Homo sapiens: one gene and its partner. The protein of the gene in region 2 purifies or fractionates together with the protein of the main gene of each other region. This does not show direct contact. Each region holds a gene or a part of one and is shown on either strand. Other genes may lie near its edges.

Region 1 (3,500 bases), on a different chromosome or scaffold from region 2:
CCTTTGCATTAGTCAGGCCTTCATGGAGTTGGCTGAGCGACCAGCTCTTCTTCCAGGAAAATCCTCTATAGCCCCAGTTTCGACATGCCACTTACTGATTAGGTCCATGACTTCTCGGGTTAACATCCTCACCAGTTGCTCCTCCAGCATCTCTTGAGACTCTGGGTTTTCATCTGCAGCCTCATCTTCTCCACTGCAGAAAACCAGGGGGCCAAGTTCCACAGGAGTGCAGAAAAGGAAGGACAAGGAAAGCAGCGACCCTAATCAGACTCTCTCTGACCACTTTCTTCTCCTTTGGGTCTTCGTTTTATGCAAAAGTTGGGAATGGACAGCAGTGATCCACTGAAGGACATTATTACTAGTGACTCTGTCCAGTTGGATAGACATTACAGAATTAAAATAAGTGAGTAAGGTAACAGTAGCCCCTATGAAGGCTGGATCTCAGAGTCTGCCTGCTGGTAACAGCCTGTCCAGACAAGCCATGTATCACCTAGGCTGAGAATGACTACAACCTACTGCTCTTCTACCCTGGGACAGCAGAATCCCTGCCCGCTTCCTTTTCCCACCCCAAACCTGGCTGCCAGTTCATCCACCAAGAAGAGTGGGTAGGTATCCCTTACCACAGCAGGCTCCTTTGGTTGATAACTTGCCATTTCTGAGAAAGCCTCTGGGAAAACACAAAGGAAATAAATGCTAGAATTGGGGAAAGGATTGGAACACATAATATCTAAAGTCAAGTCCACTTCATGATTAAAATTAGCCAAGGATGATTCTAGGCATCAATGACAACTTCTGTAGACTCCACACCACAAGGTTAAAAAAAACATCTATGGTTTCTGTAACCTATCCCACATCCCTGATGAAGGTGGTATCTCAAACACCTCTTTGCTTGGAAAGAATTAACAACATTTTTAGAATTCCTGGGTCTCTAGACATACCTGTTCTCCACCCAGCTGGTCCCCCTGCTTAATTCTAGAGTAAGGATAACAGACCCAGCATTCCTGGCAAGGGTCTGTGAGCAAGCATTCCTCTTTTTACCTCTCCTCAGTTAACAGGAGGTTAGGAGCAGAATCTGCAACTGAAGCTGTCTTGTGGCAATTAAATCAGTTTAGTTCTTTGGGGGCTGCTCGATCCTACAGCAAGGATAGTCAGCTGGGGTAGAAGCTCTGCCCAGCCAGTCTGGCAGGGCTAGTAGACAACACTTCTAGGAGCTCCTGACTTGCAAAGCTCAGAAATGGCCAGAGGCCTTAATAGTACTCTTTGCTTCCTGTTCCTGACTTATCTCTTACCATATGGAGGTAGGTGAAAAGAGGTCCGAGGATGGGGGATACCAGGGCTTCATAGTGCTCTGGGGGACAGAAGAGCACCAGAGGCTTTACAAAGACACGTGCTGCAACAAGTTAAGAAATTTTAGTGCATAGGCACACATCTCTCACCTGCCAGGTGGTGGGTTGCACCCCTGGGCAGAATCAATCCCTAAAGGATTTGCCAGATGTCAAAAATATCCTGTGTTAACAGTGAAAAAATCTTAAAGTTCTTTTCCTAAAATCCTAAATGGCACTGATATTGAATTCCATTATACTCTTAGTTTAGCTGCATTTCCGTCAGGCTGCACATTATGGTCACTGGCCCAAAAAGTAGGAATAAAAAAATAGGAAGGAGGACATCCTTGTAACAAACTCTCCTTCACCATTCTCCTTATAATTTCAGGTAAGAAAGATTTGCTGGCTGCGGTGGCTCACACCTGTAATCCCAGCACTTTGGGAGGCCAAGGCGAGTGGATCACGGGGTCAAGAGAGCGAGACCATCCTGGCTAACATGGTGAAACCCCGTCTCTACTAAAAAAAAAAAAAAAAAAAAAAAAAATTAGTCGGGCATGGGGGCGAGCGCCTGTAGTCCCAGCTACTCGAGAAGCTAAGGCAAGAGAATGGTGTGAACCTGGGAGGCGAAGCTTGCAGTGAGCCGAGATCACGCCACTGCACTCCAGCCTGGGCAACAGAGCAAGACTCCGTCTCAAAAAAAAAAAAAAAGAAAAGAAAGAAAGAGATTCAACTATTAATAAGGGTCTGAATGAGAATGAAGTGTTAAAACTGCTGCTTCTGGCTGGGTGTGGTGGCTCAGGCCTGTAATTCTAGCACTTTGGAGGCTGAGGCAGGAGAATTACTTGAGCCAGGAGTTTGAGACCACCCTGGGGAACATAATACAGACCCATCTCTACAAATAATAATAAAAACTAGCTGGGTGTGGTGGTGCGCATCTGTGGTCCAGTCCAGGCTCTTCAGGAAGCTGAGGTGGGAGGATCACTTGAGCCTGCACTGAGCTTTGATGGCACCACTGCATTCCTGCCTGGGTAACACTGAGACCCTGTCTCAAAAAAAAAAAAAAAAAAGTGCTTCTAAAAATACAGAAAAGGGATAAAAGTTTTATCTTTCACAGCTGGGCATGGTGGCTCACACCTGTAACCCCAGCACTTTGGGAGGCTGAGGCAGGCGGATTACTTGAGGTCAGGAGTTTGAGACCAGCCTGGCCAACATGGCGAAAACCTGTCTCTACTAAAAATACAAAAAAATTAGCTGGGCGTAGTAGCATGCGCCTGTAATCCCAGCTACTTGGGAGGCTGAGGCACATGAATCACTTGAACCCAGGAGGTGGAAGTTGCAGTAAGACAAGATCATGCCACTGCACTCCAGCCTGGGCAATAGAGCAAAACTCTGTCTCAAAAAATAGGAATAAAAATCAGCTGGGCGTGATGGTGCACACCTGTAATCACAGCTAGTTAGGAGGCTGAGGCACAAGAATAGCTTGAACCTGAGAGGCAGAAGCTGTGAGCCGAGATCATACCACTGCACTCCAGCCTGTGCAACAGAGTGAGCAAGACTGTCTCAAAAAAAAAAAAAAGTTTTATCTGTAATAATTCCGAGAAGGGGGAAGGTAAAAATTTACCCCTAAGGAAAAGTTTATGGCCATCTGGACTGCCTTCATGTTTTCCCTGCAATCTGCCAGTGTTTTTAATGACATGATACACTTAGATACATAATCTCATCTCTTCCTTCCAGTTCTGCCTCTTCCCTCTGGTTGCTGTGACCTGTTTTGTTTCTCTCTCTAATTTTCTGACCTTTTGGGTTATGTAGAGACTTTTGAAAGGATATGAAGCATGGGTCTGAGTCGGTAGTCAGGAATATTGTTCAAGTTGACAAAGGCTGAGCTGAGAAGCTGGGTAGCAAGGTCCTCCACAGTATAGAAGTCTTGCTGCATGGAAGGGCCTGCCTTCCCTAGGATATGAAAACTGTAAAGGGGAAAAAAAGAGCATTGAAAATGACAAATCCAACATCTGTTACTGCCAGCCCTGTCCCATGAATTTCATTTCTAGCCTACAATAAGGTTTTTCAGCCAGAAGAGCAGTTGTATTTACTTAAGAGAACTTATAGATACAGCATCTTTTTAAAGACAGATGTTGGTGGCCGAGATCAGCAGTAGCTTTCATTACTATTTAATGTGGA
Region 2 (3,784 bases):
TCTAGTGCGTCTCTGGTGATGTTCAAAATATAATTATTTTTAATTAACTCATTAAAAAAGAGATCTTTGCTATAGGCACTCGGGAGGCTAGGGAAAGGGGAGGGAGATTAGTCGAGAGAATTAGAGATTTCTGACATCAAAGAGGCTGTGTGACTCCTGAAACCAGATCTGTGTTCTAATCCTCCACGTTTCTAACATCCACCACAGCCACAAGGCAGGCACGTACTGTTACTGAAAATTAGCTTACAAAATGCCTTTCCTATGCCATAACTTCTCCTGTGCATCTTTGCTTTTCTTTGAACTTGGCATTTCCAGCACATCCATATCGCACAAAATGTCAGCTGCAGGTCAGCAGACGTTACGATGGGGACAAAGCGGATGGAAAAAAGAAGCTTAACTGCTTCTCTGCGGCCTAAAATCCCATCATTACGGGGATCATTCTGAATGGAGGGAGCCCAGCGGGTCAGAACCACCCCGGCTGTGGGCCTGCTCCCGCCAAAGTCAGGAGGGGGGTGTTCATTTCTCCAGGGAGCTAGGGCAGCGTTCTCGCTGGGAGATGGTGCTGGCCTAGAAGAGCACAGGGGAACATCACACACCTGGGACAGTTGTGGGGTGGGGAGAGGGGGGAGGGATAGCATTAGGAGATATACCTAATGCTAAATGACGAGTTAATGGGTGCAGCACACCAACATGGCACATGTATACATATGTAACAAACCTGCACGTTGTGCACATGTACCCTAAAACGTGAAGTATAATAATAATAAAATTAAAAAAAAAAAAAAAGAGCACAGAGAGACAGGGCAGAGCGAGGCGGCGGCGCCCAGCTAGATAGAGCGCGCCTCCTGGCTCGGGCCCGGCCCTCACCTTTGTACTGCAGCGAGTCCTCCGTGTAGGCCAGCATGCTGGGGAAGGTGCTGCTGAGAAACAGGCCCAGGCTTGCCGTCCCCACGAACAGGAAGACGACGTTGTAGGAGAAAATAAGCAGCACCAGGAACGTCACCACCACGCCAACCTGTCGCGGCAGAGGTGGAGGCGGTTAGGAATTGCGAAAAGCTGAGCATCGGTGGTGAGGAACCGCCAGGAGTCGGCGTCTCCTGGCTTGGCGTTTCCTCTCTAGCCCAAGGAGCCCAGCTGTGTGACCCGCGCGCCACCCCGTGGACCAGGCGGGAACCGCAGTGTTCCGGGGACCGTTCTGACATCTGGAAGGAAGCGTGGAAAGGAGACCCCCGCCTAGACATCTTCCCACCTAGACATCTCCCCTAACAGCTACGGTACACGCTGCGTAAGCATTTGGGGACTGAGGACTACCTGTCCCCAAGGTCTTATCTGTAACCGCGGGAACTCCACCCAAGCCAATTTCATCAGCTCTCTCTGCCCTGCCAGCCCTGGGGGTAGGAGAGTCTCTGTTTCTTTGTGAGAAGCTGCTTCTCTTCTCCTGAAAGCCAAGAGTGCACAGACAGGAAGCCATCAGATAGCAGGGGAAGAGGGGTGGTGGCAGCAGGGTCCCATCCTCTGGGAATCCTAGCCAGCCACCCAGGGAGAGGGTCAGTGGCTGTGGCAGTCAGCTTGGCACCCTCAGATTTGGCTCAGATTCCCATGGGCAGATGCTAACCTATGGTTGGAGACCCAGAAATCTTTCTTTTCTTTCCTTTTTTTTTTTTTTTTTTTGAGAGACAGGGTCTCACTCTGTTGCCCAAATTGGAGTGCAGTGGTGCAATCTCAGCTCACTGCAGCCTCGACCTACAGGGCTCAAGCGTTCCTCCCACCTCAGCCTCCTGAGTAGCTGGGACCTCAGGCATGTGCCACCACGCCTGCTAATTTTCTGTATTTTTAGTCGAGAAAGGGTTCGCCATGTTGCCCAGGCTGGTCTTGAACTTCTGGGCTCAAGCAATCCATCTGCCTCAGCTTCCCAAACTGTTGGGATTACAGGCATGAGCCCCCACGCCCAGCCAAATCTTTCTAGTTCAGTAAAGGTCTCTGTCATACAGGCATGTTTTTGTTAATATAACCATATTTCTAAGTTCTTTAAACACGTTTTTATGTCTGCATTGAGTCACTTCTGTGCAAGATGTATCTGGGAATAAACCCAGGCAGCACAAGATTTGGGGTCAGAAGACCCAGGTGGAAGTCCCGATGTGTTTTTTACCAGCTGTGGAACCCAGAAGTAGCTGATTGCTCTGATTCTTAACTTCCTAATCTGCAAAATAGGAATAGTTACAAAAGCCACACTAAAGAGTGGTGGTGAAATAATACAGATGAAGGGGCTCTGTAAACTGTGGTGCTTCAGACAAATATGAGTCCTAGTGTTTCTCTGTGGGCTTTTCTTAGACGTCTCAGGAGATAAGGATCTTCTATAGCAGCCTATGGCTTTGAGGTAAAAATCTCCTGGATGAAGACATCTGTTTCTTTAAAAAGTAAGTACAGACTATAGAGCTAGGCAAGAAATCTCATCCAGCTCCCAACCCCTCCACTTCTGGGCATGCAGAAAGGAAAGACTTTCAGGGTTGGGAGCCGATCCTGGGAGAGTTGCTCCAATTGGAAAATCAAAGCCGGTGCTCCTAATCCTTGAGGCCTTTACGCTCCTCTAGCAGCCCTTCCGTCTCTGCCACAGGATCTGTTAGGTGGAAGGTGGTCTCGAGGCTCAGAGGCCTTACCCAGACAGACTTCCTTCCCTGGGGAGGGATCAGCCACAAAACAGTGGCCGAAGGAGAGAAACACATTCCCTTCAGAATGGAAATGGAAAGACAAAAGACTTCTTTCATGCAGTAAAAATATGAAAGTCATAGCATAACTATGGTTCCAAAGGTCATGTCTTTCTTTGGCACAGAACATGGTCCCTGAGATCCATTTGTTCTTGCTTTCCCCTCTGTTCACTCTCTCAATGTTGGGGTGGCCCAGGATTCTCTTCTGGCTCTTCCATGTCCGCAGTGCCCTGCTCCACGTTTCACCTGCCTCTACAGCAGGCATGCTTGTATCTATCCCTCTAGCCATGAGCTGTGTCCAGGACTCCGGACTTGCACCTAAAGCTGCCCCTTGGATATAGTCAGTCCCTGGATGACTAACCATGTGGCCCAAACTAGACTCTTAATTTCCTCTGCCAATCCTACTCCTGCACACATCAAGTGAGGGCATCCCAGTCATGCAGTTGCTCAAGTCCTGTGTCTAAGGTCCTTGATTCCTCCTTTCCTTACCTCCCACACCTGGGTCAGCAACAAGTCCTGTCCACACCATCTCAAAAAACATGTTCGATCCTTGTACTGCTCCAGATCCATCCAGACCACCCCATCCCAGCCACCTCCCTCTTGCGCCTGGACTACAATAACAGACAGTCTGTGTTTGACTCTTGCCAGCTACAGTCTGTTCTTCCACACTGGAGTGCACTTTTAAAATGCAGTGCAAGTGGCTGGAGATGGTGGCTCCTGTCTAGTTCTACCACTTTGGTAGGCTGAGGCAGGAAGGATCGCTTGGGCCCAGGAGTTCAAGACCAGCCTGGGCAACATAGTGAGACCCTGTCTCTCTAAAAAAAACAATAATAAATTTTAAAAATGCAATGCAAGCTATGTTAGATGGAAATGTGAAACATCACGGGGCACCTGTATAAGTGTCGTTTACTTCATAGCATGAATAAATGTATCTGTGAGATGCAAAAAAATAAAAAGAAAAAAGAAAATGCAACGCAGACCTGCTTAAAACCTATTGGCTTCCTGCCCACTTAGAATAAAATTCAAAGCCCACCTTACAAAACCCTGAGGATGTAGCCCCTGTTTACTTCCCCATCCTC

Evidence for each region.
Region 1: the proteins of SLC60A1 (region 2) and XPO5 purify together in Homo sapiens (affinity purification with mass spectrometry; 2 studies listed by BioGRID and IntAct, with this or other methods). This does not show direct contact.

Annotation. Positions count from the first base shown.
Region 1 is NC_000006.12:43,527,539-43,531,038, forward strand, and holds part of XPO5 (exportin-5), read right to left. Parts: intron 3,287-3,500; coding exon 3,150-3,286; intron 1,839-3,149; exon of another isoform or gene 1,818-1,838; coding exon of another isoform or gene 1,711-1,817; intron 1,388-1,710; coding exon 1,290-1,387; intron 668-1,289; coding exon 621-667; intron 194-620; coding exon 96-193; intron 1-95. UniProt on the Homo sapiens protein: Mediates the nuclear export of proteins bearing a double-stranded RNA binding domain (dsRBD) and double-stranded RNAs (cargos). XPO5 in the nucleus binds cooperatively to the RNA and to the GTPase Ran in its active GTP-bound form.
Region 2 is NC_000001.11:205,589,371-205,593,154, reverse strand, and holds part of SLC60A1 (major facilitator superfamily domain-containing protein 4A), read right to left. Parts: intron 1,286-3,784; exon of another isoform or gene 1,016-1,285; coding exon 868-1,015; intron 1-867.